Regions from separate parts of the Homo sapiens genome. Here regions 2 and 3 are each linked to region 1. Evidence: fine-mapped expression QTL. A gene starts in region 1. Each other region holds a variant in brackets. All regions are shown on one strand. Distances are from middle to middle. Region 1 holds the start of ALKAL2 (ALK and LTK ligand 2). Region 2 overlaps LOC105373324 (a long non-coding RNA gene). Region 3 has its middle 60 kb from the start of LINC01874.

The links. PIP is the estimated chance that this variant, and not a neighbour inherited with it, causes the effect. A credible set is the group of variants that fine-mapping cannot tell apart.
Region 2: its variant is the best candidate, but not a certain one, in a credible set for the expression of ALKAL2 in NK cells (Gilchrist 2021, PIP 0.77).
Region 3: its variant is the best candidate, but not a certain one, in a credible set for the expression of ALKAL2 in whole blood (INTERVAL, PIP 0.71).

Annotation. Positions count from the first base shown.
Region 1 is chr2:286,079-290,315 of GRCh38, reverse strand. ALKAL2 (ALK and LTK ligand 2) reads left to right here and starts at 2,225. Exons shown (of 6, transcript NM_001002919.3): 1 at 2,225-2,303; 2 at 2,424-2,733; 3 at 3,973-4,026; 4 at 4,113-4,193. The coding sequence starts at 2,481. It overlaps LOC101927262 (a long non-coding RNA gene), which reads right to left. Exons shown (of 3, transcript XR_007085917.1): 1 at 3,692-4,237. RefSeq lists a silencer at 2,661-2,710.
Region 2 is chr2:175,567-179,803 of GRCh38, reverse strand. LOC105373324 (a long non-coding RNA gene) reads left to right here. Exons shown (of 4, transcript XR_922689.3): 2 at 4,036-4,237. Among named protein-coding and RNA genes, the nearest start is that of SH3YL1, 86 kb to the left of the region's middle. The variant T/G (reference allele first, on the strand shown) is at 1,867.
Region 3 is chr2:430,709-434,945 of GRCh38, reverse strand. No RefSeq gene overlaps it. Among named protein-coding and RNA genes, the nearest start is that of LINC01874, 60 kb to the left of the region's middle. The variant A/G (reference allele first, on the strand shown) is at 2,654.

The DNA.
Region 1 (4,237 bases):
TCTTGCCCGTGGAACTCAAGTGTCTTCTTGGACATGGGAAGGGGAAAGAGAGAAACGAAAAATGCCTCCTTTTATGTGCCTAAGGTCTGTTTGACATAAAATTTTACTTTTTCCTGAGTGTATTTTAGCAGAAATGTTCACATTTCAGTCATGTAGCTTGCAAAAAGAAAAAGAAAAGCCTCGCTGTGAAATCAAACCATCTGTTTTTCAAGGGAGCGGAGAGAACGCAGATCCCAAGGGTGTGGGGCGGGGTCCGGAACCGGCACATTTCATATCTTCTCTCTCCACGCTGCCTCCCCGCCCAGCTCTGCCGGACACTTTCTCCTCCTGAGGAGACAGACCCCGTGCAGGAAGAGAGAAAGGACGCGGGGACGGGCGCAGACGGGGCCTCTCCGGGAGCTGGGGGATCGGGGCGCGGAGCCTTCCGCCCGCACCGCCCGCGCTCACGTGCGCCTGGGCCAGCACCTTCCCGCCGCGGTCCTGCGACTGCCCCGATCATGGTGCAGGCCTTTAATTCTCGCCCACTCCGCCTCTCTGATTGCACTCAGAACACCTTTCCCAAACAGATCGCGGACTTGGAAGACGTCCAGCTCTTGCCCAGAAAGCACCAATCGAATGGGAAAGTGCGCAACTGATTGATAATACATTTTACAAGAATAAAATAAAAGAGGCAAATTGCTGAACTTTCACAGATGTGCCGGGCTTCGGCCAAAGAGCCAAACTTTCTTAAAGACGAGTCCGGGAGGCAAGTGCCCTCCTGCGGGCGTTCCCTGCCGGGGCGCGAGGGACCCGCGGGCCGAGGGTCCAGCGCAGAGGAGCGCGCAGATGGCGCGGTCCTTGCCGGGGAGGGACCTTCGCTCGTCCTCTCGCAGGGGGTCTGGGGAGGGGGTGCAGGTCCTGCCCCTCCTCGGGTGGTCAGCTGTGCGCACCTCGGGGGCCGTGGAGAGTCCTCACCCGCCCATCTCCTGCCTCCTGGCCGCCCCGCCTCGGGGACCAGGGCTTGGGGACCCGAACCTGGGGACTGGGCTCGGGCGGGGCAGACCCCTCGAGGTCCGGAGAGCGGATCCCTCCAAAACGGATGGACTCTAATTGACTTATTAAATGTCGAAGCAATCAGGCAGCTCCCTTTTTAATAGCCCAAGATCTACATTTAGACAAAAACAGAACCGAGTTCCTGGTAAAGGCGTTTCTTCTCATCCTGTCACAAGTGACAGGAACGGAGGGAAACAGACTGGGGGAGGGGCGGGGGGAGGAGAACAGGGGGAAGAGGAGGAGACGGGGAGTGGGGGAAGGTGGGGCAGGAGAGGAGGAGACGGGAGATGGGGAAGGTGGGGAGGGAAGGGGCGCGGGAGACGGGGCGCGGGCGAGGGGGAGACGCGGTGGAGATGCGGGTGGGGGGACCGGGCGGGGGCGGGGGCGGAGTTGAGGGGGAGCGGGAGACGGGGGGAGGCGAGAGCGAGGTGAGGCGGGGGGACTGACGAAGATCCGCATGGGGGTACTAACACTTCAGCGGCTTCTAATTAAAGCCCCGCTCGGAGCCCTTGGGGACCCGCCTGACGTCGGCGGGCGCGGGGATAAGAAGCTCCCCGAGGTCTGAGGCGGGACTCGGAGCCGGCGCACCCCAGGTCGGCCGTGGGTCCAGCGCTCGGAGCGGCCGAGTCCCCGCGTCCCGTGCGCTCCGCCCGCCGGGCATGGAGTAGTGGCGCAGCTCGGGGCGCGGGGACAGACGTGCGCACAGACGGCGACGACTCCGGCGGCTCCAGGTAACCGGCCCGGCCACGACGCGCAGGTGGCTCCCGGGTGGCGCCGGGCAGGTGCGGGAGGGCGCCATGGCCGGGAGGTGGAGGGGCTTCCAGCACGTGGCGCGGCCGGGGCCAGCGCGAGGGTCCGCACCCGGCCTCCTCCGTGGGCTTCGGGGACTCGGCGCTCGCCGGCGACCACCGCGCAAAGGCGACGCTGGAAACTTGAGCGCGGCCGCCGGGCCCGGCGCGCGGCGCCGCCTTCTTGGAGAGCGGTAGGCGCGGGAGCGCGGCCCCTCCGAGGTCCGCCCGCGGCCGGGGAGCTGCCTGGCACCCGCGGCTTCCAAAGGGGAAAGAAAGTTGCGCCCGCGCCAGGCGCAGCGCGCTCGGCGGACGCGGCCTTTCGGGCGAAAGTTAGGAGGGGCCGGGCTGGCGGGCGGGCGGGTTCCGGGGGCTCCTTTCCGCACCAGCGGCGGTCGCTCCCCGTGGGCGGGACCTCGGGCGTGATCGTCGAGGAGACCGCGGCTCCCTCACCTGCCGGCTTGTTCCTCGGGGTCCGCGGAGGTGAGGGGCCGGGTCCAGCGCCAGCGGCTCCTCCCGCCTCCCCTCCCCTCCCCCGCCCCGCGCTCCGTCCCCCTCCCCCGCTGACTTTCTCTCCGGCCCCCCGCGCCCCTTCTCTCGCAGCGAGCCCAGCTCTCGGCGCGTGTCGGAGTCTCCCAGCCCCGCGGCCCCGAGCGCACGATGCGCGGACCCGGGCACCCCCTCCTCCTGGGGCTGCTGCTGGTGCTGGGGGCGGCGGGGCGCGGCCGGGGGGGCGCGGAGCCCCGGGAGCCGGCGGACGGACAGGCGCTGCTGCGGCTGGTGGTGGAACTCGTCCAGGAGCTGCGGAAGCACCACTCGGCGGAGCACAAGGGCCTGCAGCTCCTCGGGCGGGACTGCGCCCTGGGCCGCGCGGAGGCGGCGGGGCTGGGGCCTTCGCCGGAGCAGCGAGTGGGTGAGTGGGGCCGAGCGCGCCCGAGGGCCGGGGCTGCTGGGAAATAGAATTGTCTTTGAGAAACACGTTTCAAAAAGAGACATCAATTTTGACCACTGAACAGCAGGATTCCTTTTTTTTTTTTTTTTTTTTTTAAGAAAAAGAAAATAGCAGCAATAGGTCCGCGCATGAGGCCTGGCGGAGAAGCGCCTGGTCTCCTTCTGGCGCGCGTGAGCTGCGGCGCGGGTCGGTGGTTTCCACACTAAACTGTCAACCGTCACTTTGGAAATGGAAGCATTTCCAGCAAAGCTTTCCCAACTGAAAAGGAAGCATCCAGGCTCCTTCATGGCCCTGCCCAGAGTGGTGGCCCACGGGGAATTTCCCAGGAAAGCATGAAAGCGTCTAATGCTTTTGTGACACAATCAGGTCAAACATGATAAGGTCAGTTTTATCCCGGCTGCGTCAAGTTAGGAGTGAATGAAGACTCACTAGGGGGTCAGCTGTGGATGCGAATGCTCCTCTTCAGAGGGCGTGACTTCACACACAGTCGGGGCTCAGCCAGGAGCCCTGAACGGGGGAGTGAAGATGGAGAGGGCTGTAAATACGCAAAAACAAAGCTGAACTCAAGAAGAACGCCCTTGCAGGGTTCTCCCCACCCACTGTGTGCGGAGAACCCTGGTGGAAGAAGTTTGCTTGGCAGAGTCTTTCCCTGGGATTCTTACCCTACAAACCAGGTTCATGCATATTCCCACTAATTTACACCTCACTGAAACGTGGTCTTTTAATCCTTACTCTAAATATGTATCTAGATAAAGTAATGTTCTGTAACCCATTTTTTTGTTTGAAGGGTCAGGTTTTCTCTAAAAACTTTGAAATGTTGTGGGATTTGATTCCCAAGGTCCTTAAAACTAAAGTGCCTAAAAGTGACTTATTCACTGGAAGTTAAATGTTTAAAAGAAAAAAAAAACAGTTTTCTTACCTCTGTAACTTCGTGGTCTCTGTCTGCATCCCACGGGGTAGACAGCCGACATAATCCTGGAGCTTCAGGAGCAGTTACTGTTATTTCAAGGAAAATAAATGTCCCTGATATTGAGTCTTCTTCACTGTCGTGTGTTGCAATCCAGGGCCCCAGTCTTTTTTATTTTGTGCAAAGCAACTTGGCTAATATGGAGCTCCAATTTTCTTCAACATTCACTTAAGATCACATTTTTAAAAAATGCGTCCTTCAGGTAATATAATACTTTCTTTTCCCTGAAACAGAAATTGTTCCTCGAGATCTGAGGATGAAGGACAAGTTTCTAAAACACCTTACAGGTAAGTTTTCTCCTCGTTCCTCACGTCTCCCAGAGCTCCTTTTCACCTGTGAGTCTTCATGATCTGTTTCTTCTTCCGTGTTCCAGGCCCTCTTTATTTTAGTCCAAAGTGCAGCAAACACTTCCATAGACTTTATCACAACACCAGAGACTGCACCATTCCTGCATGTAAGTAACAGCATTGGATTTTTATAAAATGCAAGAGCAGTGCA
Region 2 (4,237 bases), 110 kb after region 1:
AGTGGAATAATTTGCACTTTTTTTAAAAAAAGTATATTATCTATTTTCCTTTAAATATGCAGCAGAAGTTTACTATTATACAACTAAATTGTGTGGGTTCTCTAATTGCCCACCTAGATTAATATGTGGTTTATTTCACCTTGATGTTTTTAAAGAAAAGCCTGTGCTGTGTGAGGTTTAGAGCACGCACCATAAATAAGGAGGCTTGAGATGGCTGTGCCTTCCGGAAATGCCATGACCCAGGACCTACGCAGGGCCCACTGCTCTGAATCTTAACGCTTCTGAAATGGCTGTGCCTCCTGGAAATGCCATGACCCAGGACCTACGCAGGGCCCACTGCTCTGAACCTTAACGCTTCTGAAATGGCTGTGCCTCCTGGAAATGCCATGACCCAGGACCTACGCAGGGCCCACTGCTCTGAACCTTAATGCTTCTGAAATGGCTGTGCCTCCCCGGAAATGCCATGACCCAGGACCTACGCAGGGCCCACTGCTCTGAATCTTAACACTTCTTAAATGGCTGTACCTCCTGGAAATGCCATGACCCAGGACCTACCCAAGGCCCACTGCTCTGAACCTTAACACTTCTGAAATGGCTGTGCCTCCCCGGAAATGCCATACCCCAGGACCTACGCAGGGCCCACTGCTCTGAACCTTAACACTTCTGAAACGGCTGTGCCTCCTGGAAATGCCATGACCCAGGACCTACGCAGGGCCCACTGCTCTGAACCTTAACACTTCTGAAACGGCTGGATGTCTCTGCATGAGCTGTGCTTACCCAGTTGTTCCATTTATTCTTATATTTTACAAGCATTTAGTAAATTCTTGAGCTAGGCCCTGGGGACTACCAAAGGAATAAGATATCTGTTATTTTTATTTTATTTTATTTCAATAGTTCTGGGGAACAGGTGGTTTTGGTTACTTGCGTAGGTTCTTTAGTGATGGTTTCTGAGATTTTGGTGCACCCATCACCCAAACAGTGTACACTGTACCCAATGTGTAGTCTCTTATCCCTCACCCCCTCTCACCTTTCCCCCTAAGTCTCCAAAGTCCATTTTATCATTCTTATGCCTTCGAATCCTCATAGCTTAGGTCCCACCTATAAGTGAGAACATATAGTATTTGCTTTTCCATTTCTGAGTTACTTCACTAGAATAATGGTCTGCAACTCCATCCAGGTTGCTGCAAATGCCATTATTTTTTTACTTTTTATGGCTGAGTAGTATTCCATGGTGTGTGTGTGTGTGTGTGTGTGTGTGTGTGTGTGTATACATATATATATATAATATATATAATATTTTATTTATTCACTCGTTGGTTGATGGGCATTTAGTCTGGTTCCATATTTTTGTAATTGTGAATTTTGCTGCTATAAACATGTGTGTGCAAGAAGACATCTGTTCTTAAATTGCTCTCAATTTAGTTAGGAATACTTAAAATGGCTACACTGCAGGATAGAAAGTGTGCACAAATGATCACCTTTTAAATAGATGCATGAGAAGAAAGAACTCTGAAACGCAGTGATAAGTATGGTTCAGTGGAGCCCTCAGGACCTATCTCAGTGTGTTCCTCTAGCATCTCTTCTAGTTTCCTCATGCACTCTACTTTCTAGCTGCACCTGCATTATGCTTAGCACCTGTCCTATTCCCTCCTTTACTCTGAACCCCAGGTTCCCCTGTGTTTTCATGAGCACCTGTCCTATTCCCTCCTGCACTCTGCTCTCTAGCTGCCCCTGTGTTCTCCTTAGCCCCTGACCTACTCCCTTCTGCACTCTGCTCTCCAGCTCCACCTGCATGTTCCTTAGCACCTGGCCTATTCCCTCTTGCACTCTGTGTTCCAGCTCCACCTGCATGTTCCTTAGCACCTG[T/G]CCTATTTCCTCCTTCACTCTGCTCTCCAGCAGCACCTGTGCACCCACAGGTGGCTTTCCAGCTGTGCCTCCTGCCTATGCCCTGAGGAGCTCAGCACCCAAGAGTGAATGGATCAAATTACTGACTCCTTTTTGGTGTCGATCATCATTCTAGGCTCTTCATACACAACGTAAAAGGCAACACATTGCTACCTTTATTCAACTAGAAGGAAATTAAACTTCATAAAAGTTATACCCAGAGACCTAGTGCATGGAAAAGGGGTTTGTGCAATTCTTTCCACTGCTGCTTTTTATACTCAGTGCCCTATTCCTCCCTGAAAGAAATTCTGTTCCAAAATGCTGCAGTCACTGAGATTCTTCACTTTCTTTTCTCTCTCTCTTATTTATTTGGCCTATTTTTTATTTTTTTATTTTTTTGAGACAGAGTCTCATTCTGTCACCCAGGCTGGAATGTGGTGGCTCAATCTTGGCTCACTGCAACCTCCACCTTCCAGGTTCAAGCAATTCTGCCTGAGCCTCCCAAGCAGCTGGTACTGCAGGCAAGCACCACTACGCCAAGCTAATTTTTGTATTTTTAGCAGAGATGGTTTCACTGTGTTTCCCAAGCTGCTCTCAAACTCCTGACATCAAGTGATCCACCTGCCTCAACCTCCCAAAGTGCTGGGATTACAGACATGAGCTACCATGCCCAACCTTCACTTTCTTCTCTGAGTCAGAGATCTCTAGCAAGATAGCCTTTTCACAATTTTTATTGCAATAGAAGTATTTGAGACCTTTGTCAGGTTAAACTGTTGTGAGTTAAAGGTATGTCTGTTTTTCTGAGATACACTGAATTTAGGAATGTATGACTCAGTAATGAAAACTTGATCTGGCATCACCCTAGGCATTTGAGCTCCCAGACAGAGAAGGATCTGTTTTTCCAATCACTGACAAAGCCTGGCATGATCATGGTTCGCAGGAATGCAGCACCCCAAGAGGACCCTAGCAATTGGGAGAATTTTGTTTATATGACACTAAGCCCCAAATGACCTTAAATTCTAAATAAAAGTTCCATGGGCAATTTGTATAAGGGCCTTGTTTTTAAAGAAAATAAATTATATGACAGGTTTGTTATATATATATTACAAACTATACTGGTGAACATTTTACTCAACATTTAAAAATCTTTAATTAAGACCTTTCAGTACATAAAGCTTACATAACAAAGTCTAGCAAAAGTCTATAAAATCTAAACACATTTCTAAAAGAAAGGGTGGTGCCACGAAAGTTTACATGCTGAGGCTTTCAGGGTGGCTATGCTGTGTTGGATGTGGGTGGTGTTCTCTCTCTCGTGGTTTTGCTTCTTATGTGACAGTTCCGGCTCACGAGAGCTCTCTGGGCCCGTCTGTTGGCTTGCATCCTGTGGCGTTTGGCAAGTGAGATCTGTTTAATACAAAGTGTCAATAAAGCCAAGGTTATGATAGTTAAAAATAATCGATACTAATTCCCTAGAAATTTTGTCTTTTTTACCAAGCCACTGGTGCAATGTGGAGTCACTACATTTTATGCAAGAAGAATAACACCCTCACTCCACAGTCTGAACCAGAACTGACACTCGGTGGTGATTCCCCCTTTATTCTAGGAGGTGTTAACATTAGCTATGGCAATGTAAAACCGATGTTTTTGGAAGCAGTAGGGGCAGGGAATGGAAAATCCTCTGCAGCTGTCAACATGGGGAGTGAGACAATGCTCGTGTTGACTTGTGGAACTGGATGAGAATCTACTGCTCCTTCTCTAGTGACAGTCTCTGTCATTTGCATAGAAGGTTAAACGCAGGGAGGGCACGGGGGTTCCATGTAAACTTCAGTAAGTTGCATAAACAGAGGCGGCGATGTTTTATGTCTCTGATCTTTTCCAAGGACATCTGGCCTCTGGGTTGCAGCGCAATGCTCACTAACAGAAGCTGACTCATTTGTGTTATGTCTCTGATCTTTTCCAAGGACATCTGGCCCCTGGGTTGCAGCGTGATGCTCACTAACAGAAGCTGACTCAGTTGTGTTTTCTGGTTTTGGGGAATATCTTTAATCACCACATGAATGTTTATAAACTGTTGGGGCTAAACATGAAACTCACTCTTCAGGTGCCGTCTCCACCTAGCCACCGTGTACATTTTCTTTCTCTCTCTTGCAGCTGTTCTCTTCCTACGGACTGAATGAAAAATAAAAGGAAGTCATTTCTGCATGTGTCACAGAGGCATCCTTTGGTTCTAAAGGAAGCTAAGTTGGATTCCACAAGCCCATGGTCCTTATAGCATGTGAATAGGATTCAGTCACGGACGAGAAGGAAGAGGTTCAGGAGAGACTGTAATCGCCCTGTCCAGGCTAACCCTCCA
Region 3 (4,237 bases), 140 kb before region 1:
GAAGAAAGAAAGAAAGAAAGAAAGAAAGAAGAAAGAGAAAGAGAAAGAAGAAGAAAGAAAGAAAGAAAGAGAAAGAAAGAAAGGAAGGAAGTAAGGAAAGGAAGGAAAGGAAGGAGAGGAAGGAAAGGAAGAAAGGAATAAAGAAAAAAGGAAAAAGAAAGAGAAAGAAAGAAAGAAAAAGAAAGAAAGAGAAAAAGAAAGAAGAAAGAAAGAAAGAGAGAAAGGAAGGAAGGAAGGGATTAAAAATGGTCAAATATATGAACTGCTAGGTGTAACACTTTTGTTTGGAAAGTGCAAATTGAAGTCATGCAATAACATTTGAATAAAGTTTACTGAATTTCAGTGTCTTCAAAATTGAAATGTATCACTTTCCAAGTATTAGTTGTTGCTTTACAAATAATTTCAAGAAAATCATCATCATCACTGAGCTTTTCATAAGTATCAACTGAAAATGGCCTTTGATGTAGAGCAGGGTGCAGAAAGGTGAGTGGCCATGGGTGCCAAGCACTGCAGGAATCCCATATGGGCCCAGGAGAGAGGGGCCCAGCTTCTGCAGCAGACCAGCCAACTCTGCTGCTGGAACTCTGAAGGAACAAAGGGGAGTTAAGAGGTCGTTGGAAAAGAGACAGAACGTAAATGGTAAAGCCACGCTGTGCTTTTGTTTTTAAGGAAATCTTGAGCATGAAACAGGAAAGATGAGAGAAGTGAACCTAGTCCAAGAACGATTGTTTGTGCCTTTAGAAAGGAAGCAAGGATGCAGCGAAGGAGGAAGGGAATATGTGGTTGTGGACCCACAAACAACAAACAAACAAACCACCAACACACTTGCAAAATCGTGAATGACTCTTGGTATCAATATAACCACAAGATAATTTTTAGAAAACAAAATCAGATGTTAAGCATTCCTTTAAGAAGGCCAAGGAAAGAATAATTGCCAATTTATCTGTGGAGCAAGAAAACATGGTAAATTTAAAATAGTAAATTAAGAATGACATTCTTCAAAAAGTGTATACTTTTAATTTGCTACTGATACATGATAATACTACAGTAACAAATAACAACAATTATTAAACAATTAACTATTGCTAAATGCTTCTGCAGTCCCTCCTTTGAGGGGCCAAGGTGGTAAGATCACTTGAGGCCAGGAGTTCAAGACCTTATCTCTACCAAGAAAAAAAAGATAGAATTAAACTATATACAAAAGTACAGATGAAATAACGTGATGTCTGGAGTGGGTACAATTGTGTTCCCCAAAAAGATATATTGAAGACCTACCTCCGTTACCTGTGAATGTGAATGTATTTAGAAATAGGCTTTGCAGGTGTAATAAAGTTCAGATGAGGTCCTCTGGGTCAGGGTGGGCCTTAATTCCAGCATGACTCTCCAGTTGTATGTGATAAAAACAGGGAATTTGGACTCAGGTGCAGGGGATGCAGGGAGCCCCACTGTGTGGAGGCTGAGGTGGGGACTGGAGGGCATGTCTACAAGTTGGGGAGCTCCGAGGATGGCTGGCAGCCACTAGGAGCTGGGCAGGGCCTGGAACAGGTTCTCACTCAAAGCCTGTGGAAGGAACCAACCCTGCCAACACCTTGATCTCAGACTTCAGGCCACCAGCACTGAGGGGGAATGAATTTCTGTTGTTTTAGCCACCTCGTCTGCGGGGATTCCTCATGCAGACCTAGGAGATTGATAGAATGCCTGACATTTCTTCTCTAGTAAATGAACGGAGAATTACGGGTGAAGCTGGAGGAGCTATGGATCCATAGCTGTAAAAACGGGGTGACGGGTTCCAGGGAATAGTGTGTGCAACTTATCATTTCATGTTTTCTAATATAAGCAAATAAGCATGTATATTTCTTATTTTCATGGACAAATGTTTCCAATACTTTACATGCTTTTCTTCACCTTGCTTTTTCCCTTAACATATGCTAGAGATATTTCTCACTCATTTTTGTAACTGCATATTTTTATGTTGTGTGAAAATGCCATATCGCTTCCTCTTCAATCTCACACCCAGGACAGAGCCTGGGACAGCCGGGCTGTTTTCTAGCTTGCTTACTTGCAATTCTATTGCAAATTGAGCCCCATACGTCTTCTAGTATTTGTGCTCAGAAGGCTAAATCCCTGGAGGTAGGATTGCTTTTTCTAGAGAAAAATGATATAATATTTCGCCAGATATTGCAAAACTTCCCACTCACACCAGTTTAGCATTTTGCATTCCCACCAGCTTGTAAAAGAACGCCCTGTCTTATAGTCAACAGAAGAGGCTACTTTTTTAAAGAAATGCTTTTATTTTAGTTTAGTTTTAATTGGTGTTTTTCTTGTAATGAATGAAGTTCAGTATTTTTAAAAAAGCATTTCTTTATCTATGAACAGTCTGTTCATATACTTAATGTATTTTTATATGCTTATTGGTCTTTCTGTTCTGTGGTTTTAGAAGTTCTTAATGTAGATGGACTGCCAACCCTTCGTGTGTGATATAACTTGTCAGTCAATATTTTCCATTTATCATTAGCTTATGCTTTTTACCATGTAGATATTTTTCCATATAATGAAACCTACCACATTTCCTCTATTGCCTCTGGATTTTGAGTCATGGGGAATAAAATAATAGATATATGTTTCTGTATAGGGGTTCATCTCCTGCATTTCA[A/G]TATGATCCATTTGGAAATTATCTTAGGATACACTGTGAGGAATGGATCCAGTTTTATCTTTTCACTAAACACCGTTCCTTATACTCACATGGGAAGGGGCTAGGATTCTCCACGTTCTGAAGAGCTTCTATGCACAGTCTGGTGAGTCCAAGTGTGGCACATGAACATCTCCTGGAGGCTGGCTGGATGTGCAGAACCTCAGAGCCCACCCAGACCTGCTGAACCAGAGTCCAAATGTTAACAAAATACTCAGGAGGTTCCTACATTCGAGAAGATTCAAGTTCGAGAAGGACTAATATTCAAAAGGTAGTTTTTCTTTTGGCTTTCTCCCCAAAATAATAGGCAGATTAAAAAATGAATACTGCCTTCCATTAGCCTCGCCATACTAATACAACACATTTACACCTTTTAAATTAGGGACCTCATGTATTGCATGATGATCGGGTCTTAATGTTTGTATGAAAATCATGGAAGGTGATAAAGATGCCCCTCAGCCTAAGGCTTAGCAAACCCAACAATGACTCCCCTCTCGAATGTGACTTAGACTTGTTTATACCATAATTACTCATTTTTGTTTAAGTTGCCATTTTTGAACTTTATAAACACACTATATTTTATATAGTCTTAAGTGATAACGTTTCACTCAATATTATGTTTCTAACATTTATCCAAGTCATGAATAACTATACTCCATTCTTTTTCACTAATGCATACTACTATACTGTGTAAATGTATTTAAAATATTTATATATTCTCTTTTTATATCCTGAGATGTCCCGATATCTTTCACCGGTATAAATCATTACAAATTATACTTCTAAAAGCAATTCTTTTTATTTATATTTTTCATTTCAAAAGTGTGCTAGAATTTTTCTCAGGTGTGTATTTAGGAATGGAAACGTAGGGTAAGAGAAGGTAAGCAAGCTCAGGTGATCATGCACATTGATTTTTGATCGTGCAAAGGGCCACATGGATTCATACTCCCAGAGTAGTGTGGCAGTGCGGCCCCCAGCCAGCGTCATGCATGGGTGACCTTCATCAGATCAGGGCTTGTGAATTGACATCTATGCAGTCAAATGTACTGACTTTGGTTATCTGATTACTTCACGTTATGCTTATAAAAATTGTTTGATATTTTTAGATTTCAAAATGGTTACTTTTTATGTAATGATTCTATCCTCTTGAATTAGTTACAAATAATTCACCTTTGTGGAACAAAAGACCCAACTTGGAGCATCTTAAATATGTGGAGACTTTTTTTCCCCAAGTAATAGGAAGTCAAGAGATAGACAGTTGGTGGCACTGCTTCAGTCTTCGCTGTGAGGAGACGGATCTTACGGTCACTTTTATGAGCTGGGCTACGTTCTCATGGAGCATTGAGACCCACAGAGTCATGAGAATCAGCGGCCGCCCGAGCCCTCCTCGCCCATTGTGGTTCCTGGAGCCGTCCTCGTAGGATGTGTGTGTGAGGACGTCCTGCCCCACTCTGTTCTTTTAGGTGGTCAGAGAATTTAAGAGAAAAACAGGAAGCTGTTGTTTCTCATGAGATGAAGCCTGTGTGATCCACTAACAATTATATTTCA